Linked DNA regions of Homo sapiens: all the other regions are linked to region 1. Evidence: fine-mapped expression QTL. A gene starts in region 1. Each other region holds a variant in brackets. All regions are shown on one strand. Distances are between the middles of the regions. Region 1 holds the start of PACSIN2 (protein kinase C and casein kinase substrate in neurons 2). Region 2 overlaps PACSIN2 (protein kinase C and casein kinase substrate in neurons 2). Region 3 overlaps PACSIN2 (protein kinase C and casein kinase substrate in neurons 2).

Region 1 (10,272 bases):
CATATATATATATATTTTTTTTTAATTGAAAATAAAAAAGACCGGCCAGGCACGGTGGCTCACGCCTGTAATCCCAGCACTTTGGGAGGCAGAGGCGGGCAGATCACGAAGGTCAGGAGATCAAGACCATCCTGGCTAACATAGTGAAACCCCGTCTCTACTAAAAATACAAAACATTAGCCAAGTGTGGCGGCGGGCGCCTGTAGTCCCAGCTACTTGGGAGGCTGAGGCAGGAGAATGGCATGAACTCGGGAGGCGCAGCCTGCAGTGAGCCAAGATCACACCACAGGGCACTTCCAGCCTGGGCAACAAAGCGAGACTCCGTCTCAACAACAACAACAACAAAAAAAGACAAGAAAGGAAAAGAAAAAAGACCTTATTCTAGGAAACAAGAAAGACTCTATGGTGCTTTAAGTTTTATTAAGCAAACAGATGAACATGCATTTATGGGAATAAGCACAATTCAATAGGTAACTTAAGGAAAGGTGGTTTTTATTTGTTTTATGTGTGCTTTTCATCAAAATGTCAAAACTTGTGCTCTTTGGTGGCCACTGTCCCTCAAGTAGTTACCTTTGGAACTGCAGAGATACCAAAAAATGATGTATTGTGCAGAATAATTTGAGAATTCTTTGAAGCCTGTCTCCAGTCCACAGACAGAGCATACTCATCTGAACACTAAAATTCTGCAGAAATTCCTACAAAACTATCCCAAGAACCACCACTGGGACGCATCTGGAGTCTGTCTGGGGCAGGGACGAATGATACTTTCTGGTATGTGAGGGATCAGTGCCCTGGCCATAAGGAAAGACTCTACCTGTGGAATGCAAACTGCCTTCGTAACTAAGGCATTGCTGCACTGCCCTCAGGTATGCAGCTACCATTCCAAACAACCTAACTGGAAAAAAACTAAGCCAGCACTATTGCTCACATGAATGTGGTCATTAATCGCATAATCTACAGGGCGGCCTCCACAAAGCTGCCATTACAATCTGATGGCAGATAAAGCAGGCCCGAGTCAGCTGGGAGGTTCACATGAAGGTGGCCAGAGAGCATCTGGTAAATGCCACTGCGAACTCTAAACACAAGGTGCCATCACTATTATTAAAGAAACTTTTCGATCTGTTTGATATTCCACAACATCCGGAATCATCCACTGATAACCCCTTCAGAATCAGTAAGCCTGAGCATGACGCCCTTAACACAGCACAGACTTTCAAGGTATAGAGAAGAAACAAAAGGCAAGGACATCTGCGAGGCCGAGGCGGGCAGATCACTGGAGGTCAGGAGTTCCAGATCAGCCTGGCCAACACTGTGAAACCCCATCTCTATTAAAAATACAAAAACTAACCAGGCAAGGTGGCAGGCGCCTGTAATCCCAGCACTTTGGGAAGCTGAGGTGGGCAGATCACCTGAGGTCAGGAGTTCCAGATCAGCCTGGCCAACATGGTAAAACCCCATCTCTATTAAAAATACAAAAACTAGCCAGGCAAGGTGGCAGGTGCCTGTAATCCCAGCACTTTGGGAGGCCAAGGCAGGTGGATCACAAGGTCAGGAAATCGAGACCATACTGGCCAACACGGTGAAATCCCGTCTCTACTATAAATACAAAAATTAGCCAGGCGTGGTGGTGGATGCCTGTAGTCCCAGTTACTCAGGAGGCTGAGGCAGGGGAATCACTTGAACCTGGGAGGCAGAGGTTACAGTGAGCTGAGATCGCACCACTGCCTCCAGCCCGGGCGACAGAGCGAGACTCTGTCTCAAAATAAATAAATACATACATACATACATACATACATACATACATACATACATACATACAAACATACAAAAACTAGCCAGGCAAGGTGGCAGGCGCCTGTAATCCCAACTACTGAGGAGGCTGAGGCAGAGGAATCATTTGAACCTGGGCAGAGACTCTCTCTCAAAAAAAAAAAAAAAAAAAAAGCAAGGACAAATGCCCCTCTGCTCCCACTCCAGAAATGCCTGGCCATCAGAGATGTGGATGGGTATCCAGGATTAGGGAAAAGTTCATGTTATCTCCCTGCAGAATGCTATGTTGGTGGAAATCCAGAATTTTTTTTAAATATATGCATACTTTTAGATTTATTTATTTTTAAACAGAGTCTCACTCTGTCACCCAGGCTAGAGTGCAGTGGTGTGATCTCAGTGCACTGCAACTTCCATCTCCCAGGTTCAAGCAATTATCATGCCACAGCCTCCCAAGTAGCTGAGGCTGAGATTACACGTGTGCACCACTACGCCAGACTAATTTTTTTTTTTTTTTGAAACAGGAGTTTTGCTCTTGTTGCCTAGGCTGGAGTGCAACGGCCGGATCTTGGCTCACCGCAACCTCCGCCTCCTGGGTTCAAGCAATTCTCCTTCCTCAGCCTCCCAAGTAGCTGGGATTACAGGTATGAGCACCACCACACCCAGCTAATTTTGTATTTTTAGTAGACATGGGGTTTCTCCATGTTGGTCAAGCTGGTCTCGAACTCCCGACCTCTGGTGATCCGCCCGCCTCTGCCTCCCAAAGTGCTGGAGATTACAGGCGTGAGCCACCACGCCCGGCCTTAATTTTTGTATCTTTAGTAGAGACGGGGTTTCACCATGTTAGCCAGGCTGGTCTCTAAGTTCTGACCTCAGGTGATCTGCCCGCCTCGGCCTTCCCAAGTGCTGGGATCCCAGGCGTGAGCCACCCCGCCCAGCCTAGATTATTTAAATATCACATCACAACTTCATATACATTTGAGATTAAAAGTGATAAAGTTCCAAGTCCCAAAGCAGCACGAGCTAAGGATACCATTTCCATTCAAATGAGTTGTTATTCTTCTCCCAAAAAGTGGATAAAGAGTGCAGACCTAATCACCCATCTACTTCTCTGTGTTATGTTACTTTCCCAAGTAATAAATATCACCAGCCTAATGGCCACTTTCTTTAAAGCTTTAAGTCTATTGTCAAAAGAAAAACACACCAATGTTTTTGATGTAGTGGCCTCATATCTCAACCAGCATAACCTCACCAAAGAGGCTACCAAACTCTAGAATTAAGTTTAAGTCCACACAAGTGAAAGTTTTCCAGGTGAATCAAGAGAGATCCAAGTTGCACTGGCACAGCTTCAATGTCTCCATGAGGAGGCTGCATGCAGGCAGGCTCATGAATCAAGTGGAACGACAACATCTTGGGCAAGAACAGGAGGGCTGGCATTCAACACTGCCTGCCTGGTCGGTTCCCTTGCCCTGGGCTCCAACCTGGCAATCCCAGGAGGGTTAAAACAGAACTTCAGCACACGGGAATAACCGCAGAGGAAGGCACCGAAAAGGAGGGAAGGAAGAAGGTGTGAGCTCACCATCTGCAGCTGAGGTTCAAACTCTTTGAGCTGGTTTCCTGATTTTCATCAAGACAGCCAGGCAGTATTTGGTAAACAGTGTACCAAGTAGCCCTGGAGACTCTGAGCAGCCTACCCCCTTAACCACAAAAACACCGGACAGGCGGAGGGAAAAAGAGAAGACAGGATCCAGGAATGGTGCACACACCCAGCCAAAGGCCACCTTCCCTCAGGCACCCAAGCCAAGAGTGGCATCCCCAGGTCCTGTTATACGTCAAAGGCTGCAGCCGTGTGGGCCCCAAAGCAATAGCACAGCTTGCTCCCCTGACCAACCAACTCCTTCTGAAAAGAAAATCGACCTTCTCTGATGGAGCCGAAACCCAATGAATCAATGAAATTCAACAGCAGCAGCAATCACTACCTCTCCAATTGCGGACCTCTCAGGATGCCTGGCCAGGCTTGAAAGCCCTAGAGGAGTAAGGAGTTCGGATTTCTGATTCAGTGAGTCTGGGGAAACTCTGAGGAGGGTCACAAGGGCAAACCTCCCCGGCCTCTCCTGCTTGGCCCCAGCCCTAGGACGTGCTGCGGTAAGGGCTTTGCTCCCCCCGCCCTACACACACACACACACACACACACACACACAGACACACACACACCACCCCCCCCCCCCCGGGACACGGAGGGTGGGAAGGAAGGAAATGGAGGCCGCTCATCAAAGCGCCCGAAATCAGCGCACCCGCGTGTGTCCTGCGTCGCCCCCCAGGCCACCCCAGGACTAAGCCCTGCCCTCTCACCGGCGCGTCCCAGCCACGCCTTCCCTCCAGCGTTGCTCCGGCACCCTCGCCTAACCTCTGCACGTCTCGGATTCCCAGCTTTCTCCTAAATCGCGTCCCTCCAAAAGTCGCCCCAGCTCCCCCTTCTGCAGCTGTCTACACCTCCCCCACTCATTAGCAGCTCTTAACCCCCGACGGCCCTGCTCCTGCACTTCCCTCTCCAGCAGGCCCCGGACCCCGGAAAACTGCCCCGCTCCCACAGCGCCGCCCCCATGGGCCCCCGCCCCTTCCCCGAGCCGACCCCACTCGCCCTCGTCCTCCCCAAGATGTCTTCTCCAGGCGCCCCCCGGGGCCCCGAGCACTCGCCCCCTCCCACAGAGACAGGAAGTTCCGCGCGGCCCGACCCGCTTCCCTCAGGGCGCGGAGCTCGGCGCGGCGGCCCTGACGGGGCGCGGGCCCGGCCGCGGACCAGCGCCCCCGCGTCCCGCCCGCGGCGCCCCAACCGTCGCGGCGACCCCTGACCTCGGCGGCCACTCACCTCCCAATCCGTCGCACACTCCGTTCAGGCTGCCACGGCGTCTCCAGACCCAGCTCCGGCCGGGCTCCCGCTACCGCTTTTGCTCCGGCAGCACTGCCCAGCCCTGCCCAGACCCCTGCGGCCGCTTCTGCCGCCAGCCGCGACCGCACCGCCCCCGCCGCTCCCGCTGGGCTCTGTCCATTGGCTACCGGACACCGAGCCCCGCCCCACAGCCTCCCCGGCGCCCCCGATTGGGCCAGATGAGTAGAGAGGCGGCTCACCCCGCGTGAGGACGAGGGAAAGCCCCAGGACGCGCATTGGTGACTTCTCCTGTCAATCAAACGGGGAGTGCCTATTTAATGGGCTGCGAGGGTGGCGCAGATTACTCTCCCAAAGCCGCTCGCTGGTGGTGGTCCTTGAGACGCGCTTCCCGGGGCTGGAGTTTTGCGGTTTCGTCGGCATCCAGGGGTAAGAGGGCGCGGCAGGGCAGCACCGCACCTGACCGGAAGTTCAGGGAAGGTAATCCTACAGTCTTTCAGAAAGTTTCCTCTCCCAAGGGACTCAAAGAAGCTAATGTCGTTAGGAGCTCCTCCGACTTGCGCCAAAAGCGTCATTCCACGTGGACCCGCTTAGTTTAAACGGGGGGTTGGGGGGGCGTATGTTGCTGCTCTCTCTAATAAAATATATTTGGATGGCAAGGCACCAGGCAATGCACACGCATTCTTTCCAATTCTCACAATCACCTTGCATGATAGGGTATTAGCCCCGTTCTGCAGAGGGAAATACTCTTGAAGGAAAATGGAGAGCACTTCCTGAGCACTGTCCTACGCGCTGTCCAAGCACTGCTTCATGTCATCCAGGTGGAGAGGATGGTGAGAGGAACCCCAGGTGAGGGGTGAGCCAGGTAACTTGCTGGGGGTGATGTGGAGTAAAGAGAGTAAATGGCAGAGCCAGGATTAGAAACCCAGGTCAGCCCAACCCTTGAGAATAATAATGATGACTGTGTAGCACTATGGGAAAATGCTTAAACTAAAACGTTAAAAGAAAAAGCCAGATAGAGCCAGGCATGGTGACATGCACCTGGAATCCCAGCTTCTTGGGACGCCGAGGCAGGAGAATCGCTTCAGCCCAGGAGTTTGAGGCCAACCTGGGCCACATAGCAAGACCCAGTTCTCTAAAAAGTAAAATAAAAGAAAATAATAATAAAAGAAAAAGCTAGATACAAAATGGTAGAAACTGTAGAATTGCTGCTACATATAGATAGGTATGAGAAAAGAGTCCACAAAGAAATCTAGTGGTTGTTTACTTTCTAGACTGCTCTGTGGCATTGTCCTTATGACAATAATTGAGAAAGAAACAAAAGAACCGGCTAGGCACGGTGGCTCACGCCTGGAATCCCAGTACTCTGGGAGGCCGAGGCGGGCAGATCACAAGGTCAGGAGTTTGAGACCAGCCTGGCCAACACAGTGAAAGCCTGTCTCTGCTAAAAATACAAAAAATTAGCTGGGTGTGGTGGCATGCACCTGTAATCCCAGCTACTTGGGAGTCTGAGGCAGGAGAATCACTTGAACCTGGGAGGCGGAGGTTGCAGTGAGCCAAGATCACGCCACTGTACTCCAGCCCTGGCGACAGTGCGAGACTCCATCTCAAAAAAAAAAAAAAAAAACCAACACACAGTGCCAGGACAAACCACTGCCAAGAAGTCTCTCCTCATTCTCCAGGACTGAGCCAACAGGGACCTCTTTGCCACCCACAATACCTGTGGACCATTTGTATAGATAGAACTCAGCCATCAGCTCTCAGCACTTTCATATCTGGGTAAGTTCCGCTTACATCGCAATTCCATGCCCTATAAAAATATAGAGCCTTGTCGGGCGCTGTGGCTCACGCCTGTAATCCTAGCACTTTGGGAGGCCGAGACGGGCGGATCACGAGGTCAGGAGATCAAGACCATCCTGGCTAACATGGTGAAACCCTGTCTCTACTAAAAATACAAAAAATTAGCCAGGCGTGGTGGCGGTCGCCTGTGGTCCCAGCTACTCGGGAGGCTGAGGCAGGAGAATGGCGTGAACCCGGGAGGCGGAGCTTGCAGTGAGCTGATATCGCGCCACTGCACTCCAGCCCGGGCAACAGAGTGAGACTCCGCCTCAAAAAAAAAAAGAAATACAGAGCCTCTCCCAAATTTTTGGGGGTTTTTGTTTTGGTTTGTTTGAGACAGGGTCTCACTCTGATGCCCAGGCTGGAATGCAGTGGCACAATGATGGCTCACTGCAGCCTTGACCTCCTAGGCTCAAGCCATCCTCCTGCCTCAGCCTCCCAAGTAGCTGCGACCACTGGTGCGCACCACCATGCCCAGTTAATTATTTTTTAAAATCTTTGTAGAGACAGAATCTCGCCATGTTGCCCAGGCTCGTCTTGAACTCCTGGGCTCAAGCAATCCTCCTGCCTCATCCTCCCAAAGTGCTGGGATTACACGCACGAGCCACTGTACGCAGCCTCTCCCAAGGTTTCTGAACAAGCGTCTGTCATCAGGCCTCCTGCTCTTCCACACACCGCATGCTCACTGGTCTCACCATCATCCCCTTATCCAGTTGCACGAATCCCCCTGCACTCCAAGCACTGCTGAGTCTAGCAGGGGTTCCTGAAGACTGGAAGCTGGAGAGAGGCATCAAGCCTGGCACTGCCCAGCAACAAGACAGGATGCCTCGTGAGCCTTTTTGGCTGCCTGGCCCCAGGAGTCACCACCTGGTCACGTGACCCATGCCACACTCTGGCCACTTCACATGCCTTTGGTTTTCTGCACTCTCCCCCTCTTCTTTTCTCTCCTCCTCCTTCTCAGGACAAACACAAAATTCCTTTCCTTGTCTTGCACCTAGCAGCTTGACATCATTGCCTGAACTCTTTGGGCCTTATACCTTCTGTCCTGGCAGCTTATCAGGGTATTTTTCCAAAGATAGCTCCCCGTTGCCACATGTGAGCACCCCAACTTTGTTCCCCACAAACATTTCACAACATTCCATCCAGCCTCCTCCTTCAGTCATATTTGAACAGGCCTGGAGCCCAATCCTGCCTCCACCCCTTTTCAGCCAAGGGGCCTTGGGCCAGTCACTGCAGCTCTCTGCACCTCTGTGTCCCCTCCGTGATATGGGGATTAGGAAGAGCAACAGGGCTGTGGTAAGGAGTCAAAGCATGGAGAGCTGTTCCGGGCACACGGCTGTGAATGCTGTGTCTGAACGGTGGACATGTGGTCATGCCTTGTCAGCTGCTCCTTCCTTCCCCCAAAATGTGACCATTGCCACAGAGTGCCTGGGACTGAGACTGACCGGCTTTAGTTTAGTCCTTTATTAACCATTTCCCACTAAGCAGCCTGGATAAACAGACAGTCTGGGCTAAAACATACTTGCACAGAGAATATCATATTCTCAAAAAATTTAAAACATCCAGATATAGTTGTATTGCTGAAAATACAGTGATACGTGTATTTTCAGTGTGATAAGTACAGTGATTTATGGATTGTACAGTGATACATGTCTTTCAAGAAAAAAAATCAAAATCAGTTACAGACATTCACTCACTCAATAATTCCAATATTTAGAACGTGCCAGGCAGGGAAGGTGGCTCGGGGTGGACCTGGGTCCTGCTGATGTTCCTGGAAAGATCTGGCAAGGACATAGAGTTTAGAACAGAAGAGGGTGCAGTGGTATTGAAAACAGTGCTGTTTACCTGAGCCAAAATGAGTGGAAGATTACAGAGAGCAAAGATCAGGAGGCAAGAACTCCTCCTGTCCAGGAAGAGAGGAGGGTTCCACTTGGCTGCATTGCAGGCACAAAGAGAAGCCAGGGGAAACAAGGCAGTAAGGCAGCCGAGCGGCAAGGAGCTCTGCGGCCCTGGCAAGTGACTTCACTACTCCAGCCCTTGGTTTTCCCTACTGTAAAACGGGGATAATCACAAAACCTAGTGATTGTTAGCTTAGAGAATCTGTGAGGATTTGTGAGTTCGCTCTGCAATATTCAGCATGGGGCCTGGCACAGGTCATTGTTCAGTGTGTTCAAGGACCCCTGATTTTGTAAAAGTGCTTCAGGGTATATTCACTTTTTTAAATTTTTAATCGTGTCTAAAAGAAAAGCCTGGGCGTGGTGGCTCACGCCTAAAATCCCAGTACTTTGGGAGGCCAAGGCGGGAGCATCACTTGAGTCCAAGAGTTGGAGACCAGTCTGGGCAACATCATGAGATCCTGGTCTCAAAAAAAAAAAAAAAAAAAAAAAAAATTAGACAGACGTGGTGGTGCAGGCCTGTAGTCCCAGGTACTCAGGAGGCTGAGGTGGGAGGATCACTTGAGCCCAGGAGATTGAGGCTGCAGTGAACCAAGATTGCACCACTGCACTCCAGCCTGGGCAACAGAGCAGGACCCTGTCTCAAAAATAAATAAATAAATAAATAAATAAATAAATAAATAAATAAATGGAAAACAAACCTAAGAACACGTGCTGTGCACCAACTGTTAATATTTTGGCCATATCAAAGCACTAACTATGGCGGCTGGAGGAACACATTTCTGAACATACCTCTGAATGACATGCTCACCTGCCAAGTACGTGTAAAGATCTGAATTCTTTGTAAATGTGTCATTGATTAGGAGGCAATTACCCCAATCTCCCTGGCTTTGTTTTGTTTTGTTCCATTCTGGCTGCACATGTCTGCTCACGTCAAATTGTACCAGCAAGTACAATGTTCCACTCCTGCCATGCCCGGCTGGAGCCTGCTCCCAGACAAAGGTAGGTATGGAGCAGCATACAAACAGGGCTTCCCAAGTGGGCACTGGGCACTGCCCAGGTGCCCTGAATTGGGATCAATCCATTCTTTTTTTTTTTTTTTTTTTTTTGAGACGGAGTCTCACTCAGTCGCCGAGGCTGGAGTGCAGTGGCGCTATCTCGGCTCACTGCAAGCTCTGCCTCCCGGGTTCACGCCATTCTCCTGCCTCAGCCTCCCGAGTAGCTGGGACTACAAGCGCGTGCCACTGCGCCCAGCTAATTTTTTGTATTTTTTTAGTAGAGACGGGGTTTCACCGTGTTAGCCAGGATGATCTCCATCTCCTGACCTCATGATCTGCCCACCTCGGCCTCCCAAAGTGCTGGGATTCCAGGCGTGAGCCACCACGCCCGGCCATGGGATCACTCAATTTTTTTGCAAGTTCTTCAGTTGGTTCTACTTCTATCTTATTTTACTAAGTGGAAAAGCTCATTTGGAGAATTCGGGTTTACAGTGTTACCATTTGTACCAAAGTGGGCCAGTGTCAACAATTTCAAAGTAACTGTTTTAAAATTTGGAATGAAAACCTAACAATGCCCAGGCTTTATGTGATACATTTTAAAGTATTTTCTACTCTGGGAGGAAGATATAAACTCCGGCAATAGTCCCTCCTTGAGTCCTTGCTATGCAGGAGGATGAGGAGGTCCCAGAAGCCAACAGATTCCATTCTGAATCCAGCCAATCATCTTACCTTTTGCCAGCTCCTAATTAGATAAATTAAAAGGCATCCTGCAATTGTAAAACTAATTTTTTTTAAAGTTATTGGATGCAACTGCTGTGAATCCAGATTGCCTTAGTGTAAGGTAAAATGAGATACTGAGGCTACTTTTTTTTTTTTTTTTTTTGAG
Region 2 (10,272 bases), 140 kb before region 1:
GTTTTGCTCTGTCGCCCAGGCTGGAGTGCAGTGGCGCAATCTCGGCTCACTGCAAGCTCCGCCTCCCGGGTTCAAGCAATTTTCCTGCGTCAGCCTCCCGAGTAGCTGGGACTACAGGCGGCTGCCACCACGCCCGGCTAATTTTTTGTATTTTTAGTAGAGACGGGGTTTCACACTCTTAGCCAGGATGGTCTCAATCTCCTGACCTCGTGATCTGTGTGCCTCGGCCTCCCAAAGTGCTGGGATTACAGGCGTGAGCCACCATGCCCAGCCTACTTTTTTTTTTTTTTAAGAGATGGGGTCTTGCTCTCTCTTCTAGGCTAGAGTACGTGGTATGAACATGGCTCACTGTATCCTCTTGGGTTTAAGTGATCCTCTGCCTCAGCCTCCCAAGCAGCTGGGACTATAGGTATGCAACACCACGCCCAGCTAATCTGCTACTTTTGTTTGTTTATTTATTTGAGACAGGATCTCGCTCTGTTGCCCAGGTTATTTATTTGTTTGTTTGTTTGCGACAGGGTCTCGCTCTGTTGTCCAGGTTGGAGTATAGTGGTACAATCATGATTCATTGCAACCTCAATCTACTGGGCTCAGGTGATCCTCCCACCTCAGCCTCCCAGAGAGCTGGGACTACAGGCATGTGCCACTAAAATTAGCCCAGCTAATTTTTTTTTTTTGACACAAAGTCTTGCTCTGTCACCCAGCCTGGGGTACAGTGGTGTGACCTTGGCTCACTGCAACCTCCACCTCCCAGGTTCAAGTGATTCTCCTGCCGCAGCCTCCTGAGTAACTGTGATTATAGATGCCCCGCCACACGCCTGGCTCATTTTTGTATTTTTAGTAGAGACAGGGTTTCACCATGTTGGTTAGGCTGGGCTCGAACTCCTGACCTCAAGTGATCTGCCTGCCTTGGCCTCCCAAAGGTGCTGGGATTACAGGCGTGAGCCACCATGCCTGGCCTAATTTTTTGTATTTTTTGTAGAGACAGGTTTTGCCATTTTGCCCAGGTTGGTCTCATACTCCTGGGCTCAAGCGATCCTTCCACCTCGGCCTCCCAAAGCTCTGGGACTATAGGCATGAGCCACCACATCCAGCCAATTGGCTGCTTTTGACAATGAAGCCAGGGCACTGGGGAAGGGCCTGCAGTGACTCACAAGTGAAACTAGCAAGAACTTTTCCAGACTTAAAAAACAAAAAAGACCGCCCACAGCCTGCAGGTTGGAAGCCCTCCTCCCCTGGATGCTGGGGGAGCCCACCTACCAGCCTTGAAGCTCAGCTCATCATGCTCCTGCCCCTCATAGTCATACAGGGCCCGGACTCGCACTTCCGTCCCCGAGGTGGCGTCGTCGTCGAATGGATTCGAGTCCCCATTGGCATCCGTGGAGGAGAAGGGGTTGTTAGACTCATCGTCTGACCAGTCGGTGGGATAGCTCTGGGTCTTCTCGTAGCTGCTCACACTGCAAGAAAGGGGAGGCCACAGGGCCCTCAGCACAGGGCGGCAGAGGGTGTGAGGCCCCCGCCCCGCAAGGGGAGGGCACTGGAGCCTTGGGGCTCAGGGCTGAGGGCTCCTTCCGAAGGAGCACAGGTGGAGCCAGTGCTAGTGTGAGTTCATGCCATCCACACTCATCCTGAGCCATCAACAGGCTTTCCAGGGGCAGGCGGCTGGAGATGCCCACAGCAGAGGCCAACCTGGGGCCTCACTCTCTAGTCCCCAGCACAGACTGCGCGTTGTCTGTTTTCCTGTCATGGTGCTGCTAGGGCCTTGAAGGGTTAACAGAGGACAGAGAAAAAGCAACTTAAGATTGTTAGCTGTGCCCTCCCCGAGGAATGGGGGTGCCAGAGAGCCTGTGCCAGAGAGCAGGTAGTGGGCCAGGGTGCGGCACGCCAGGTGCCCACTTCCTGCAGAGCTCCGTGCATTGCCGAGTGCCGAGGGGTGAGACCCCTGGACAGAGAGAGAGGAAGAGAGACAGAGTGAGCGCGGTGGGAGCAGAGGAAGCATTTGTTCACCAACTTTTTGGCCTTAGTGTCGTCCTTCTCACTGACGGTGCTGCCCGTGTCGTCCTCATCCTCGAAGGGGTTGTAGCTGGACTGTGACTGCGCAGACTGGGCGGGGTTGCTCGGGACATTAAGGGTGCTATGGAGAGAGAGAGCTTTCAGGGGATCCCAGCTCTGCAGGGGCCCGTGAGGGTCCTGGCAACTCCTAGCTGCAGGATCTCAAGAGACAAATCAGCTCCTCCTGTGACCGGAGGGGACCGTGGTGTTTCAACAGAAAGGTTACTATGGCAGAATGCGGGCAATACTTCAGCTGTGAAACACGGTCCAGGAGCCTAGGAGAGGACTTGGTTTCCCTTTTCCTTCCTTGCACCTGGAGACAGTCCGTCCAGAACAGGGGCCCTGGGGTGGCCCAGGGGCGGGTGACAAGCCACAGCTGGAGCAAAAGTCGTTTCCAGGTTCAGGGCTTCTCCTCTGTCCTGACTCCCACCAATGTGAGCTGGGGGGGTCAAAAAGCCCCTCAGGGTCTCCTCTGAGAGTGACAGTGTGGGAGGGGCCGGCTCCCATGGATGAGTGGGAGAGGGCTCTGAGCTCTTCAGCCCACACGGCCTCCTCCTGACTACTAAGGGGTTCAGGGCTCGCTCTTCTGCTCTGTGGAGCTGAAGCCTCCAAAATCAGGGCCAGGGCCTGCGGCACCGTCTTTTCTAGATAGAAAGAAGATTCCTTTGGTGCTCCAGAGGGAAAATCCAGTCGTGCAACTGCCTACTGTTTGCCAGGCCCAGTGTGGGAACCAGAGAGATCTGGGCCAAGCTCTGCCTGAGGGCTGGGAGCCGGGAGCTGAGTTACACACTACGAAGACCACAGGCAGACCATCAAGCAATCCAATCAGACAGGCACCAAGGGCCCTGGCACCCCACCAAGTAACTGATCCTAGGACCGGGCTACCCTGGCCAGCAGCACCTTCTACTTCCAAGACCAGGGCCTCAGGGCACAGGCCCCCAAAGCACTGGATGGACTGCTCAGCCTGAGCACCCACCACCCCAGAACCAAGGAAGGGAGGCGAGGACATGCCTCCAATGCCACCAGGGTGATCCTGAGTGGCCAGTAACTGCCTCATCCACTTCAGCCTGGCAAGTGGTACTTGACCTAGGCCTGCTGGAGGCCAATATCCAGGCCACATGTCTGAGCTCACCGGCCCTCCTCCCTCCTTGGCACCTTTCTCTAGCAGACTGTTGTGAGACGGCACTGGTGGGGGCGGCTGGATTGTGCAGCAACCCTGGCCAGCCCAGGGCCCCCAGGGTCTCCTCTGAGGCAGTGTTTCTTCTTTCCCATTCCCACCCCCAAGCATACAGGTGCTGGCCTGATCCCTGGGACAGGCACTTACTGCCGAGCCCACCTGCCCAGACAGCGTGCAAAGCAGCGGAATGACGACAGCCACACCTGCTGGGGAGCCTGGGTGGGGGCTTCAGTGCCTGGGGCTGCAGGAAGGCCAAGGGAACCTGGGCTAAGCCTTCTTAGGAAGCCCCCGTATGAAATGACTATTACTGAGTGTCACATGGAGGCCTGTGGGCAGGTCCTATAGGAAGACCTCCTCTAGCACACACTTTCCAGAAGGTTCTAATGACCACAGTGCCACCCTTATATCTCTCATTTTCAGCCAATGACTAAGTCAGAAATAACCAATGCTCCTAGTGAAGAGGTAATTTGGAAAGGAGATGCCTGGCAGTCCTCTCCTGTCCCTCCCTCGACTGGCGCCTGCACACAATACAGAGTGAGCATGAACCTCGGCAGGACCTCAGCTGCCTGAGGGAACCAGGGTGGCACCTCCACCAGTGTCCGGGCAGGGCGGTGCTATCCCTGGGGACATGAATGCCAGCCCTGTCATCAGCTCCTCCCCACTCAGGTCTGAAGCTCAGGGCCAAGCCTCCCTCTCTGGATCTGTCAGCAGCTCTGGCACCAGGCAGGAAGACGACCTTCCCTGGAGATGCCCCTGGGCCACGGCCCACAGAGCTCAGGAGCCCAGGAACCTCCCAGGTGTCCAGGCTGGGCCACGGCCCACAGAGCTCAGGAGCCCAGGAACCTCCCAGGTGTCCAGGCCGGGGCTGCCCTGGACCATGCAGATTGCCCAGGGCCCCCACCATGGAACGGCCTCTTTTGGATGGAGGTGGCGCCCACTCACCTGCTGGGCTTACTCGGCAGAGACTGGTCGCCTGTCTGGTTGATGCCCGTCAGGGTGACGCCGTCAGTGGCCTTCTTCTTCTCTCTCCGGCTGAGGGTTCGATTCAGGTCTGCGGACCACTCCTAGGCAACAGGTGCCGAGGGAGAGAAACCAAAGGTTCACTACTTGCTGGAAGCCACGTCTGTCCTCAGTTCCTGCCCAGCGAGCCTGCAGTTGGCTCTGTGCATCTGATGTGTAGACTCAGGGCCCCAGCTCTCCCTGGTTTCCCAGAAGACCTCAGGCTCCCCATGCCCCACTTATGAACCCAAACGACCTGAGCCCCTCCTCACTGTTCAAAGCAGGGGCTCATCAGGGGATCTGGAGGCTTGCACCTCTACAACCACCCCCAGGCCATGCTGCCCACCTCCCAGAGGACCAGCGGGGGTGGCGAGGACCAGGGCAAGGTCCGGGGCCTCCTGTTCCTGACCCCACCCACCAAGGTTCTCAGTCCCAGCCCCCTCAGGCCAGCATGGGCCCCTGTGGCCTCCCCAGATGTCTGCTGAGCCTCCCAAAGTAGACAGGAGCCAGCCTCTGAGGCACCTGTCCTGAAGTGCTGAAGATCCTTTGCGTCGATGCCCTAAATTGTCCCTGGGCCACAGGGTCAAGACAGTTGGCTTCGGAGACCTGAGCAAGCCTGCCATGTGGAAAGGCAGGTGCAAATAAAACCAGGTGCAAATAAAGCCACTGCAAATAAAACCAGGGCTAGGTGGCTACCCGCTGACAGAAGGGGCAGGCAAGCAGACTCTCAGTCTCCAAAGCGCAGGGCCCTCCCCAGTGTTTTGCTGCCCTGGGACTTTTCCTCTGTGATCTGAGCACATGCTGGGGCTAACGAAGCAAAGCAGAGTACGCTCCTCCTGGAAGCCTCACGAGTTCTCGGGT[G/A]GCGAACTGGCTTCACCAACCGCACTGAAAATGGACTAGGGCAAAACCATGAATGGAGACTGTGTCTTGATTTTCTAGAAGAGTCTGTGCATGCCCGCAGGTGTTTAATGAGCTCTCCTTCCCCCCATCTCCACCAGTTACCAGACAACTCTGATTAAAACTTGGTGTGGCTGAGTCCACGGCTCTGCTCACACGTACTTACAGAACTTTTGGGTTGGAAGCCAACTCAGAAGCATCCTGTCTAACCTGTCCATTTGTCAGATTAGGAAACTGAGGCCCAGAAAGGCAATGTGATTTGCCCACGCAGTGTGGGTGGCAGACTTGGGCCCGACCCCAAATCTGGGTCACCTTTTCATCTATTAATTATTTTCTGACCAAAATAGATTGACTGAGAACTCAATTGGAACCTCAGAGTTCTCCACAGTGACCTCTGAATATAAATTCATCCTGATTGGGTGGCTTCCAAAGGCCAATGGGATCAACACCAAGCCGGCACTGATGGGAAGGGCCGGCTCTCAATACCCCTGACAGCAGCGCAGCCTCAGCTGAACTGCTAGGAGCCTAGCGGGGGCAGCACACCCACCCATGCGGGCCACAGACACCCTGCATGGCGTATGGCACTCTATGAGGTAGCCGAACGCAGACACTTACTTCATCCTTGTGGCATGAAAAATAAAAACAAAGAATTGCATTAGAGAAAGGCATGGTCCCGTAACAGCTGCAAATGTGCGCAGAATGAATGCACAGGGGCTGGTTCCCAGCCCATGGACCCACAGAGAGAAGGACCCCCTAGGCTCTGGCTGGGACACCCTCCAGGAGACAGACTGTCAAATAGTCCTCCCCACTGTGCCCCTCTTTGGGTATAATGGGCACCTCTAAGGGACCCAGGCGAATTTCACAGGTGGTTTCCTGTGCCACTCCGGGAGCAGCAAATCCTCGCTGTGTCTGAAACCCCAGCTGTGCACAAAACACGTCAGCCAAGACTTCCTGGTGTGTGGCTCCAGAGGAGAGGCTGGGCTTTGTGCTGTCCCCTCTAGGGCCGCTTCCAGTCAGGACGGCTCTGGCCCTCCATGCTCTCTCAGTGCCTCTGTGGAAGGGGCACAGCTGCTCTACTGCCTCCTACTGGGAGCAAGTCCTGGGGCTGGCGCAGGGGAGTGCTCGGCAGCAGGGCCCACACTGTCATTTGGAAAAACCTTCCTGTTAAGGGCCATAAAAGAAGTGCAGGAGTAAGGACTGACAAAACTGCAGGCTATGAGGCGCCCAGGAGGTTTCTGAGTGGTGGGCCTGGGTCAATAGCCCTGCGTGGACAAAGTCACCATGTTCCCTAACAGCCCCCGACAGGAGATGGGTGCTCTTGTCATTCCCATTCCACACGTGGGAAAACTGAGTCACAAAAAGGGCGAATAGTTTGCTCAGCTTCCCACAGGTGGTCAGAGGTGAGCAGAATCTGAATGCAGCCCGGGCTCTGGCCGCTGCTGAGTCGGGGAAGCCACGAGGCCCACGCCCACAGCAGAGGTAGTCGCCCTCAGCATCCCTGCTGGGGCAGCTGACGCCACGTGCTTAAGCCTCAGGGGCACCAGGACCTTTGCCCACTGCCTTCAGGGTGCCAGGTGGGGCCTAGTGACCAATCCAAGGGCTAGGTGAGTCCTGAGATCCCCAGGCCCTTGCATTTCGAATGTAAAGATAATGAAAGCTTAGACCCACATGATGGGAAAAGAAGAACATTCATTTTGAATCAGGATTCACTGAATTTACTGCCTGGAGTAGGGAAAAGTCCTTTGTTGGAAGGGTAGGGAGGGCTGCCCACTGAGACCACCTCCCCTCCCCTGGCCCACCGTGAGGGGAGCACTGTGGCTGCTCCCTTCCTGGCCATCCCACAGGGTGGGTCAGGGACCTGAGGTCCTGTGTGCCTACGGCTCCTGAGACTGACTAGGAAGGAAGGGAATGCCAGTGGCCAAAAAGTGACAGTCAAACATTCCCAACTAGAGAGGACATAACCGCGACTTCAGGAGAGGTTCAGAAGGCCTTCGGTAATGCCTGCAGCCCCCCAGGACTCTATGCCAGAACTTGGTCTGTACTATAGCTATGCCTAAAGGCTGCCTGATAAACAGGGCAAACACTAACATAGAGTCTAGAATGAGAAAGACATCATCTAGCAACTCTGTGGGCCCAGGTCCTCTTCCAGGCTGATGAGCTCATGGGCACACCCTCCTCTTACCTCAAACTGCGGCCAGTTCATGGCCATGCCCGGCCCGTGATTGGCTCGGAACCACCTCAGGTCCTCCACTGCATCAGCTGCTCTGATGCTCTGCTCCAGGTCATGGTAAATGGCTTTGTAGCTAAATCAGAGAGAAACGTGGCTCTTTTAGAAGGCAGGGGCCAGCTACCCTTTGTCCCAGCCCAGTGCCAGCCACAGCAGGTCCCGTGGTCTCTGCCCTCTGTGAGTTGGTTTCACAGACAGAGCCAGAACACTCCTCCCTTGGCTCAGGTGGAAGGTCACGGGCCGCCACGTGCACAGATGGCTCCTGACAAATGAGCTTTAAATCAAACCAGCCAAGCAGGTGGCAATGACTAAGCCCTGCTCTGTGTCACATATGCAAAAGGCACCAGCAGGTGGGCTGTGTGGGCCACCACTCTGTGTGGTCCCATTTCACCAGGCCCAGAGTTGAGGAAGAGAAAACTGGAGGGTGTTAGAAAGTACCCCTCCTTCCTCATCTCTGTCCAGAAAAGCTTTATACCCAGACTTGCCAATGCAGAGCGTGAAGATGACCCGGTGCTGAACACACCCACCACCAAGACGGGGTGGGGGCTGCCTTCCGCCTGGCAGCCATCATCGGCTCACCTTCCTAGGAAGCTGCCCTGCCAGGGAAGAGTATGGATCACTGCTGGACCTGATATTTTCACTTATAATCTTTATGGCTGGTGAGTCATGTACTTTCTCTGGGCCTCGGTTTCCTCCTCCGTTGAGTGGGCATGATCCCCTCCATCAAGGGTTGAATTGTGTCCTTCATAGGAGACATGCTGGAGTCCAAACCCCAGTGCCTCGGAATGTGGCCTTATTTGGAAATAAGGTCTTTATAGAGGTAATCAAGCTAAAATGAGGTCACTAGCAGGGGCCCTAATCCATATGACTGGTGCCTGTATTAAAAGGGGGAAATCCAGACACAGAGACAGACAAGCATCCACACGATGGGAGTCACTCCACATGCAGAAGAGCCTGACACAGGCCAGCCTCACCCTGCTCCTGCCAGCAGAGCAGCCTCGGGCAAGTCATTTAATCTCACCCAGCCTCAGCTTCCTCATCAATAAGATGGGGTCAGTGCCACCCACTTTACAAGACTATCATAAAAATGGAATGGTGGCAGAGCAGCAGCGGTGCAGTAACTGTTGCTTTTGATGATTGTTACACAGAGGGAGACAAACGGAATGTGTCTCCTATTAACAGCAAGCCTTGACCCGTGACGCATCCCTACACGGTTCTGCTAGATGGATGACAGTAATCCACGTCCTTGACTTAGCTGGGACCTCTGCCCTGGTGAAGGCATCACAGAACCAAAGATGAGGAAAGCACAGAAGAAACAGCACAGCTTCCATATCACAATTCAGAACCAAGTCTCAGAGGGTATGTGCTGTCCTGGGGGCTGAGAGCCACTAAGCAGTCACCTGATCACAAAGGGCCTCAAAGAAAGACTGTCCCAGGCACGACCAGCCCAGAAATGCCAGATTCACCTCCAGTGGATCTTACATATGCCAGCTGCGGCCAGGTGCGGTGGCTCACGCCTGTAATCCCAGCACTTTGGAAGGCCGAGGTGGGCGGATCACAAGGTCAAGAGATCGAGACCATCCTGGACAACATGGTGAAACCCCATCTCTACTAAAAATACAGAAATTAGCTGGGTGTGGTGGCGCATGCCTGTAATCCCAGCTACTCGGGAGGCTGAGGCAGGAGAACTGCTTGAAACCAGAAGGTGGAGGAGGTTGCAGTGAACTGAGATCACGCCACTGCACTCCAGCCTGGGGACAAAGCAAGACTCCGTCTCAAAAAAAAAAAAAGAAAAGAAAAGATATGCCAGCTGCCTTGGTCCTAGCTGTGGCCCCAGAATGGGCAATCTCCATTCCCACCCAGACCTGTACATGGAGTTGGCAGAGTGGGCCCGGCCTTATCTGCTTGGGCCAGCAATTGGCCGGGTCAACCAGGCCTTCCAGAGGTCCAGCCGGCCATGCCTGCAGCTGCAGAAACACTCAGCAGAGGGGCCCTCCCTGCCATCCAGATTACAAAGAAGCAGGAGGCCCTGAGGGCGGTGAGGAGACCTCCTGATGAACGCGCCATCCCAAACCTGGGAGCAGCATCTGAGTTTGCTTCAAAAGCACTTTCCGTTGACTTCAATGACGTGTGTGTTTTAGCTCAAAGGAAACTTACCCAGCCACATTGGACAGGTCTAGGTGCTTCTGAACCTCCAGCAGAACCTCCCGGAAGAAGCGAAGGCGTTTCTCCTCGAACTGCTGGCACTGCTCAAACACCTGCTCCATGTTCTCCATGTACTGGGGTGTGCCCTGGTCGAGTTCCTTCAGGGACTTCTCATACTTCTCTTTGGTCTAAAGGAAAATCCAGGCACAAGACAGAGGTTCATTTCCATTTAGCCCTTGGCTCACCCTGCCCCTGGAGTGTCTCAGGCCTTCCCAGATTCCAAATGCAAAGAAAAAACAGGAGCTCTGGATTCTGACAGACTTCAAGTTCAAGTCCCAGTTCCTCCACTCCTGCAAGGTGAATCACACTCCTGCCATCTGCCCTGTCTCTCAGCTGGAGCAAGGCCCAGACAGGTAGATGCCGGCAAAGGGCAGTCTCCCCAGAACTCAGTGTGTATGGTCTTGAGCGTGCCACACGCCCATGTCCTCTTCTCCCTGTGGGGAAGGGCTGTGCCTGGCTACCCTCAAGCCTCAGATCTGGCCCACAGCAAAGGTGGGGCTGGGGCTGAATCCTGCAGCTCTCTTGGAGCCTCACTGTCCTTTATCAGATGAGGACATCTCTCCTTCACAGTGTTCTGATATGTACATGATGGGGTGCAGGAAGAAGGCATTCAAAAAAAGTCCTCCTTCTCTTGTCTTTCAGCCCACTCCATCCCCCTCACACAGCTGCTCCCTCCCAGATTGTCCCAAGAAGGGGTTTTACAAGGCAGGAAATG
Region 3 (10,272 bases), 69 kb before region 1:
TCTTATTGCTGAGTTTGGGGTTTTTGTTTTGTTTTGTTTTGTTTGAGACAGAGTCTCACTCTGTCACTCTGTCACCCAGGCTGGAGTGCAGTGGCGCATTCTCGGCTCACTGCAACCTCTGACTCCTGGGTTCAAGCGATTCTCCTGCCTCAGCCTCCTGAGTAGCTGGGATTACAGGCATGGGCCAACACGCCCAGCTAATTTTTGTATTTTTAGTAGAGACAGGGTTTCACCATGTTGGCCAGGCTGGTCTCGAACTCTTGACCTCAGGTGATCTGCCCGCCTCTGCCTCCCAAAGTGCTGGGATTACAGGAGTGAGCCACTGTGTCCGGCCTTTATTATTGAATTTTAAGAGTTCTTTTTTTTTTTTTTTTTTAATTCTTTCAATTTTTTTGGTAGAGACAGGGTCTCATGTTGCTCAGGCTGGTCTCAAACTCTTGGCCTCAAGTGATCCTCCAAAGTAATGGGATTACAGATGTGAGCCAATGCACCCACCCAAGAGTTCTTTATGTATTCAAGGTATCTTTATCAGATATATGATTTGAAACTATTTTCTTCCATTCTGAGTTGTCTTTTTACTTTCTTGATAACATCCTCTGAAGCACAAAAGTTCTTAATTTTTATGAAGTTCAATTTACCCACTTTTTTCTTTTGTTGATTGTTTTGGTGTCATATCTAGGAAAACACTGCCTAATCCAAGGTGACAAAGACTTATGCTATGTTTTAAGAGTTTTACATCACTTATTATGACTAATTTTTTTAAACGTTTTTTTAATTAAAAAAGCTTTACAGATTTAGCTCTTACATTTAGGTCTCTGATCCATCTGGAGTTAAGTTTTATATGTGGCATGAGGCAGAGATCCAAATTCATGCTTCTGCAAGCAGATATCCAGTTGTCCCAGCGTCACTTGTTGAAAAGATTTTTCTTTCCCCCATTGAACTGGCTTAGCATCCTTGTCCAAAGTCAACTGACCATAAATGTAGGGGTTTAGTTTTGTTTTCTTGACTCTATCTCATTTTTCCATGTCTATCCTTATGCCCGCACCACACTGTTTCTTGAATACTGTAGATTTATACATTTTTGTAAATTGGGAAGTGTGAGCCCTCCAACTTTGTTCTCTGACTTTTCAAAACTGTTCTGACTATTCTTGGTCCCTTGCATTTCCACAGGGATTTTAGAATTGGCTTGTTGCTTTGGGATTTTGAAAGGGACTGCTGTGACTCTGTAGCTCAATTTGAGGAGTACTGCCATCTGAACTATGTGAAGTCTTCCAGTCCATGGATGTAGGATCTCTTTCCATTTATTCAGGTCCTTTTAAATTTATTTCAACAATGTTTTGTAATTTTCAGAATATAAGTCTTACACTTCTCTTCATAAATTTACTCCTATTTTATTCTTTATATACTATAATAAATGAAACTGTTTTCTTAATTCCATTTTTTGAATTATTCCTTGCTAGATTATAGAAATATCGTTATTTTTGTATATTGATCTTATATCCTACAACCTTGCTGAACCTGTATATTAATTCTAAGAGTTTTTTTGGTGATTCCTTATGATTTTCTTTATATAAGATCATGCCATCTTTGAACAGAGAGTGTTTTACCTTTTCCTTTCCAATCTGTATGCCTTTTGTTTTCTTGTCTAACTTCGAAGTTCCTGGTTAGACTCTCCAGTACAATATTGAGCAGAAGGAGTGAGAACAGACATCAAGGTCCTATTCTTCTGGATTGTAGGAAGAAAGCTTTTAGTCTTTCACTGCCAGCCCTGGAAGTTTTGATTAATACCCTTTATCCAGTCAAGTTCCCTTCTGTTCCTGGTTTGCTGAGTGTTTCTGTCATGAAGAGGTGTTGCTTGGGGTTGGGTGTTTTTTCTTTCTTTTGTTTTGTTTTAATGTTGCAGAACAGGCATCACCAAGGACCTAATTAACTTAGATTAAAACCACCTGACATTATATATTTTGATGAATTTCAAGTGTCATAAGGAGCCAAATAAAATCCATTTTAAGCAACTCAAAGAAAAGCAGCTTATTCTCTGGCTTTGAGAAAAGAAATTTGTGATAATAAGGTATCAGAGGAAAACATGAATGTGTCCAAAACTTACGTTAAACTTTTGCACAATACAATATAGAAAGCAAAGAAAGAAAAAGACACAATTGATAAAAATCTTATTACCTAAAATACATTAAGAGCTGATATGAAGACAGAGGATCCAATTCCACTGGACAAAGAAGTTGCTGGAGAGGAACAAACAGAAGAGGAGATGGCTGGGCAGAGACAGGAATGCTCACTAAGTTCTACCTGCTAAGCCAGACTGTGTTGGTAGTCCTGGCCACATCAGTAGTGAAAAGTCCACACAAAGCCCCCAGCCTCTCCTGTCTACTGTGTTGTCCACTGAGCAGGCCTCGAGTGGCAGCTCTCAGAGAGTGCTGTCTCCTTAATCAGCCTGGCCTGAGGGACTCTGTGGAACCGCACCCCCAGCCATCCTACAAGGGACACACAGATCAAGCGAGAAAGACATTTGTGTTAGGCTAAGTCTCTGAGACTTGGGGTTTGCTTGTTACTGCAATGTAACCTAGCTAAATATAATACAACAAATTCCCATGCAGGAAAAAAAAGCACAACTTCCTTTAAAATATGGAAATAACTTGTAAAATAAGGAAAATTAATATGACAATGCCAGTTTTGGTGGGGCTACAGGAAAACAGAAATGTACTCTAACATTGCTAATAGGCTTCATGGAAAAATCTGAAAATACAGAACAAGGCAGATAACAGTTACCAACCTCTGACCCTTAAGTCCCACTCTGGGGAACATGCCCCAAGCAAATAAACTCAAAGAAAAAATAGCTTGGACAAAATGTTCATCACTGCAATATTTATAACAGCAAAAATTGGAAACGAGTCAGCTGCTCAAAGCTAAGAAAACAATGACGAGTTGACAGAAAGGACACAACACATCCGTTACAGAGAACTAGCAGGTGAGCTATTTTCCATCCGAAATTGGGTATAAGCAAAAAAGGCAGAGTGGCACAGCGCATCCACTACACATCAACTTATAAGGTGAGGACTGTAGCTGGGCGCGGTGGCTCACGCCTATAATCTCAGCACTTTGGGAGGCCAAGATGGGTGGATCACCTGAGGTCAGGAGTTCAAGACCAGCCGGGCCAACACAGTGAAACCCTATGTCTACTAAAAATACAAAAATTAGCCAGGTGTGGTGGTACGCCCCTGTAGTTTCAGCTACTCAGGAGGCTGAGGCAGGAGAATCACTTGAACCTGGGAGGCAGAGGTTGCGGTGAGCCAAGATCATACCACTGTACTCTAGCCTGGACGACAGGGCAAGACTCGTCTCAAAAAAAAAAAAAAAGAGGCAAGGGCTGTGTCATCTCCGTATCCCCAGTGCTTAGCATGAGGTAGATGCTCAAATGAGTCTGCACAGTGACTAGATGTACGCACCGGCAATTACCAAGCTGACAGAAGCAAAATCAGTGGGGGACGAGGGCAAGAGGAGTCTTTGGGGAGGGAGCTGACACTCACCAGCTCATTTCTGTAGTGGCTGCAGTGTGCCTTCTCTCAACCTCCTCTGCCTGTTTCCTGGCTGCTGGCGCTCCCCAGGTTCTGTCCCAGGCCCTCTCTCTTACGTCTTCTGTGCCCACACACCAAACCACCTTTAACCTCAAGCCCCCTGATCTGCTGTCTGGCCCAGACCCGCATCTCTGCCTACTGGATGCCTCCACTTGGCCATCACACAGTCCTTGCAAACTATCCCCTTCCCTATGAGCCCACTCCTGTTCCTGGGTTTTCTACGTCAGAAATGGTCCCACCATTCATTCACCCAGCTTCTCAAGCCAGAAACTCCTCTTCTTCCCACACCCAACCCCCCTCACCACTACCACATTCAATCAGCTTCCAAGACCGGACTACATCAGCTCTTCAATATCTCTTGAATCCTCCCACTTGGCTCTGTCCCCATGATGATAGCTACCTTCGCTAAGGCCACCATTGCCTCCTGCCTAATCCTTAACAACGTCCTAACTAACCTGCAGCCACTTGTTTAGTCCCCGACTCCCTTCATTCTCCATGACATTACTGTGACTCTACCATGGTGGTTGGAATGTCTTCTGGAAAGATCAGGTTTTGCCTCTACTCAAACTCCTCCCCCTACTTCCTCCCGAAGCCAGCAGGGCCTCCAGGCTGTAACTACTGCTCCTCCAGCCTCACCACTCACACCACACTCCTGGCCACACTATACACGCTCTGGCCACCGTTAATCACCTGTGTCTACCAACACAAGCACCACACTCCTATCAGCTCCACCCCTTCACACACACTGTTCCCTCTGAACAAATGCACAAATGAATTAGAGGAGGTGGAGGAGAAATCAACTTCTCATAGCCAAATAGTTTCAAAAGCAAAATAATAAGAATCCTTCCAATTACTTTTATAACATAAAGAAGTGTTTAAACTGCATGTGAGCATAACATACCTAATATAATCCAGGGTAGGGTCTCCAGAAGTATGGGTACCCCAAACCTGCCACAGTCTAAGGGGGAAGTAAGGACAAAGCTAATAAAGCCAAAGGATTTGTCCCTGGGGGCAGGAGTGGAAGCACTCACTGACTGCCACTGCATCCAGGAAGGAGGCACACATTGGCCTCTGAGCCTGGCGAGAGCAGCAATGTACCACGGGCTCACCCACTACTTGGGAGGCTGAGGCACAAGAATCACTTGAACCCAGGTGATGGAGGTTGCAGTGAGATCGCACCACTGCACTCCAGCCTGGGGGAAAGAGCAAAACTCTGTCTCAAAAAACAAAAAGAACAAGTGCTCACTGATTTGCCACCATGTCCCCACAGCAAGAAGCCCCAGTTACACAACACACAAAGCTGCCTGCCCAGGACTGATGCAGTGTTATTCCAACATAATCTTAGGATCCCTTCACACAGGCATGCGCACACACATGATCCTCTCTCGTCCAGCTGGGGATCAGGACTTCAGAGCACATGAGGACGCGTCAGCTCATCTCTGCCACCACTTCCCTCGCTTCTGGTGTCCTCACATCCTAACCACAGTATTTAACAACTGACAGATGGCCACAAATACAGGAGACATGTGGACCATGTTGCAGGGAGCTGGGCCGTGGGTCCGGGTACCTGCGCTTCCCCTCTGATGCCTGAAATTCTCTGTGCGGCTCCATTCCCCTTCGTGCCAGTCTTCAGGATCATGCCAGAGCAGCCACGGCCACATACTTCCCGACGACGCCTCCTCTCCGTCAGAGGCACCTGCCCAGTGGGACAGCTCTCCCTTAAGCTGCAAGTTTTCCAACTCAAGAGACGCACTTAAACCCTAAAAAAGAAAACTCACACAGGCCCAGATGAGACAGAAAGATTCTCCTGGCATAAATAGAAGGAAAAAATATAGAATGGGTCAGGAGGCTGCCCTTTGTTCAGGTCAGAAAATAGGGGCATTCACAGGCGGCAGAGTGAGCAGGAAGGAGGGAGAAGAGGAATGCTCCAGGCCACCTTCGAGGTCTGCTGTGCCAGGTTCCCAAGACAGACAAAGAGTATTATTGACAACATGCATGAGTCAGAGTGGCCCCAGGTCAACGCTTCAGCTTCTTTCAACCCCTCCACTTTCAGGCAGCCCCTTCTAGAAGCAGGACTTCCTGTCACACAAAGGGCCTCTGTGGCCCTTTGTCCACAAAAGAGGAGCGGCCTCTTCCCATGCTTGGAGGC[A/G]GCCGTTTCAGAGGCTCTTCCCTACCCAACAGTCTGATGAGTGGAATCCTCAAGAGGAGCTGAAGCCCTGGTCTGAACAAGCTGAATATGAGAGACAGCAAGAGGGGACAACACCAAAGAACACGCTAGCCTGGATGCACAAATCTAGAAGGTCTCTGAAATCTGCATCTATGAGTCTTCACAAGACCCCTGGGGGTGGGGGGGGGGACCTCTTAATGATCCAGCTGCCTCAGGCAAAATACCTAAGAGCTCTGCGCCTGACACTGCTCATGGGTAAAATAGAATCCAATCTGCCTGACAGGTTGCACGGATCAAATGGCATCCGGCTGGGACCTGGCACAGTGCCTGGAGTATGGGGACCTTCCACAAGCATTGGCCAGGGAGAAGGTGACTGGGGCCAGGCTCCACGGCAGCCCAGCTCCTGAGCCCGTAAGCCAGGTGCCCCCACACTGGGGCACTCCATTCTCACAGGGTCGATGGACACTTGAACAACCTCCTCCAACACAGCGGCCAAGAGCTAGGAAACAGTTCTGCACAACATGCTACGGGGACACATAGAGGGTCCAGAAAGGGTGCCCAGGGCTGATGTTTCAGTGGGAATTCTTCAGCAGGAGCAGCAAGGAAAGGCATCCCAGGTAGAGGAACCTGTGTGACAAAGGGGAGTTAGAAACCAGCCCAGTGCAGGGTCCCGCTGGTCCTGGAGGGCAAACCCTGGGAAGCTGCTGTGGCTGTGAAGGAGGGGAGAGGGGACTGACAAATGGCAGGGCGCTGAAGATCAGACACCAGCTCAAGTCACTAGTTACTCCACCACAAGAGTGACTTCTGCTCCATTTACCTACCAGCAATAAAAAGTAGAATGTCCTGATAAAAGCCCACCATAAGAATGCTAGGTAAGCATGGACAAGAAGAGGTCACACCCATCAGAAGCGCTATCTAGAAGTGAACTACCTAAATACCTTCTCAACCAGTACTATAAATATGTGCCTTTGAAGTTTAAAAAGCCACACGAGCTGGGTGTGGTGGCACATGACTATCTATAGTCCCAGATACTTGGGAAGCTGAGGCAGGAAGATCACTTGAGCCCAAGAGTTTGAGGCTGCAGTGAGCTATGATAGTGCCTGTGAGTAGCCACTGTACTCCAGCCTGGGCAACACAGTGAGATCCCATCTCTAAAAAAAAATTTTAAGTACAAACCATGAGAGGATTTGGTTTTCAAATATTTTCTGGGCATCTATGCACTCAACTATGGTGCCGCTTTCTCAAGAAAATATTCTATTTCATTCAAAGGTATCAGCTAGAGCCAAAGCACTCTACTGTAGAGAAGAATATGGAGCCAGTTTCGTGTGACAAACTGATAAATGAATTCTAACTTGACAGTGCTTTTATTTCTAAAAAAAGTTCACATAAAATGAACTAGCCAGTAATTTGGAAAAACAAACAGGGAACTCAATTGTCAGGCAACAATCTGAAACTAATAGGCTTAAATCAAGCATAAAATTAATAGCAAAAGTTTCCCTTAAACAAGGGGAGTGGGTCAGGCATAGTGGCTCACGCCTGTAATCCCAGCACTTTGGGAGGTGGAGGTGGAAGGATTGCTTGAGCCCAGGAGTTACAAACCAGCCTGAGCAACAAGGTGGGATCCTGTCTCTATAAGGACAAAACATTTCTTAAATAATAGGTGCACATTTTAACTTCTAAGCTACCTTCTTACCAGCAAAATGGGAATAAAGGTGGCTGACCTACACAGAGTAGGAATTTAAATGACACATTGTATGTGAGTGCCTGAAAATGTCAGTCTCCAGCCTTCCCAGCCTTCTTGCTCCTAGTATGACTCCTCCTGGCCTCTCTGGCAACTCCCACCCCACACAGGGAGGATATGGCTTTGGCAAGCAGGACTTACACACCCATTCTCAGCTGTGCCACTGAGAACTCTAGAAACACAAAACAAAGACCTTCAACGTTAAGCCTCATACACACACGCGCGCGCACGCACACACACACACATTTTGTGATGCTAGCTGCCTAATAAACATTTCCAGTGACCACTTATAAAGGGGAAAAATTAATGACAATTCTTATTTATGATAAAATGCCGAATTACAATATACAATAATATTATCTGAGAAGCCCTGAAGAAAATGTCTTGGTTACTCTCTTGACTTCATTACAATACCCAATACCCCCACTACACACACACATACACTCACACACACACACTCACACACACTCTCTCACACACACACACACAGGCAGAAAGAACCTGTCCTTCATAAAAATTTGTCAGTTTGGCTGTCTCAAGACATAGCCTGTGTCCCAAATTCTTAAATATTTTCAATAAAATGTTTAATTTATTCTAATAAACTGAGTAAATATCAAGCCAAGGAAATTGATTTTACAAATTATTTTACATCTATCTCTCCCAATATTCTAAAAACATTTACTTTCTGAGTGCCAGAAACCTTGCTAAGAGCTAGGGGATGGAAATGAAAACAAGTGAATAACACCATGCAGGCCCTGCGGTCCAGGAGCTCACAGCACACTCAGCCCTTCATACCCAAGGGTTCCACATCTGTGGATTCAACCAGTCAGGAATCGAAAATATACGGGGGAAAGAAGTGGGTAGCTGCATCTGTACTAAACATGTACAGACTTTTTTTGCTTGTCATTATTCCCTAAACAATACGGTATAACTATTTACATTGTATTTATATTCTATTAGGTATTATAAGTAATCTAGAGATGATTTAAAGAATACTGAAGAGTATACATAAGTTATATGCAAATACAACACTATTTTATATCAGAGACGAGCATCCATGGATTTTGGTATCCTTTGGAGGGTCCTGGAACAATCCTCCAAGATACAAAGGAACAAATTGTCTAAATACTAGGAAAGATAAGACAAAGTCATACCAGATTAGGCTGAGAGGGAGGGAGGGAAGGGAGTGGGCAGGTGGGCAGGCACAGCATTTTGGTTGAGGAAAGAAGGCCTGCAGCTGCACAGCCTCCTAGGAGACAGCATGAGGTGGACTGACGATTCACGCTGCTGTCCAGGCACAGGCTCAGGAAGGGCTCTGAAGGCCTGTGCAGCCACCATTGCTGAAACTGACTGAAAACAGCAGCCCCAGCCAACTAGTGCAAAGTTAGCTTACAGTAACATTCAACGCCATAAGTAGCATTCTTACGTCTAAAAAGCTGAACACTTGGGCTTTATCTAAAAATATATGTTTAAGAGTGGGTAATTACCTAGAAAAAAAGTCCAGATGGCTATGTACCAAAAATGTGAATTCTTCCATTCAATGAAATGTAATGCAGCCTTACTTACCGTATGCCAGGCACCTCGCTGGGCCTGTGGGGTCCCGGGATGGGTAGAAGTGACAAGGCCCCTGTATATATTCCAGTAGGGGTCAGGGGATTTCAAAGCCACACCAGTAGGTAATGTAGCGGCAGACAGCATTAAGGGCTGGGGGAAAGCATGAAGCCAAGTGGGGGACAGAGAGTGACAGGGTCTACCTGGACATATGGTGGTCAGGGAAGGTTGTCCTGAGTCTTGAATGAACATCTCTGGGTGGTGGAACATGAAAGTCTGGGCTTTTGCATATCTGTATCACTTAATTGTTCTGCCATAAGAATACACTGATTGAGTTGCTTTTGAAAATTCAAAAGGAAGATAAGGCAGCACGTGGGCACCTTCCCTTTAGGTAAGCATGAAATCCAAGCTTTTCTGGTAAAGGAATCCACGAGCCTTATCTTCTAGTCACGATAACCGGCCTGCAGTATTAACTGCATTCTCTCTAGACAAGTAATTCCGGACAGTCCTGCAAAGCACCCAATTGGTGCCCTTATCACCCTGTGCACACCCGTGGTGCCCAGGGCTCAGCCTCCTCTTCTCTGTGCACACTAGTTTCCTGGGTGACCCTCTCCCTCCTGTGACCTAAAATTCCATCCACGTGCTGATGCCTCCTCACTCAGCCTCTCCCTGAGCTCCAGATCCGGCATGGCCCGAGCTGCTGGCTCAGCATCTCCCCCTGGGAGGCTCACGGGCCTCTCCGACACACTGGCCAAAACCCACCTCTTGCTCCTGCATCCCCCGGTTGGGCTCCTCCAGGACACAGCTGCTCAGGACAAATGCCCCAGTGTCATCCCTGACTCCTCTCCTCCTCTCATGTCCACATAACATCACCTCTACCTCAAAACAGAGCCAGAATGTGGCCGCTTCACACCACCTCTGTCTCAGTTACCCTGGTTCAATCTACTAAACTCAAATCTTGCCAACAGCTATTGTCAACTGTCACAGTTATTGATACTCCCCACCCTGATTACAAGGTCCCATGTGATTCTAGCCCCTGCTTCCAGCGCCAGTCTCGCTCCTTCCAATCCCCACACCCTGGACTCTGGCTACAGTGACCTCCATGTGGTTCTCCAGATGCACCAGACTCGGCTTACCTTTGCACCTGCCTCCCCTCTGCCGGGAATACCTGCCTCCCACATCTGTAGGATCTGCTGCCTCCCAGCATCAGATATTTGCTCAAACAT

What was found.
Region 2: its variant is fine-mapped to the expression of PACSIN2 in whole blood (TOPMed, PIP 0.91).
Region 3: its variant is fine-mapped to the expression of PACSIN2 in nucleus accumbens (GTEx, PIP 0.97).

The regions. Positions count from the first base shown.
Region 1 is chr22:43,010,385-43,020,656 of GRCh38, forward strand. It overlaps PACSIN2 (protein kinase C and casein kinase substrate in neurons 2), which reads right to left and starts at 4,765. Exons shown (of 11, transcript NM_001184970.3): 1 at 4,637-4,765. RefSeq lists enhancers at 4,367-5,070, 5,053-5,252 and silencers at 4,493-4,562, 4,683-4,732, 4,743-4,932.
Region 2 is chr22:42,874,877-42,885,148 of GRCh38, forward strand. It overlaps PACSIN2 (protein kinase C and casein kinase substrate in neurons 2), which reads right to left. Exons shown (of 11, transcript NM_001184970.3): 6 at 9,510-9,685; 7 at 7,308-7,428; 8 at 4,172-4,293; 9 at 2,012-2,134; 10 at 1,261-1,457. It overlaps LOC101927393 (a long non-coding RNA gene), which reads left to right. Exons shown (of 3, transcript XR_001755575.2): 3 at 1-654. Among named protein-coding and RNA genes, the nearest start is that of ARFGAP3, 23 kb to the left of the region's middle. RefSeq lists enhancers at 6,418-6,992, 6,993-7,567, 7,568-8,141. The variant G/A (reference allele first, on the strand shown) is at 5,090.
Region 3 is chr22:42,941,743-42,952,014 of GRCh38, forward strand. All of the region lies in intron 1 of PACSIN2 (protein kinase C and casein kinase substrate in neurons 2), which reads right to left. Among named protein-coding and RNA genes, the nearest start is that of PACSIN2, 68 kb to the right of the region's middle. RefSeq lists silencers at 169-395, 3,355-3,434 and enhancers at 4,925-5,817, 5,818-6,709. The variant A/G (reference allele first, on the strand shown) is at 5,737.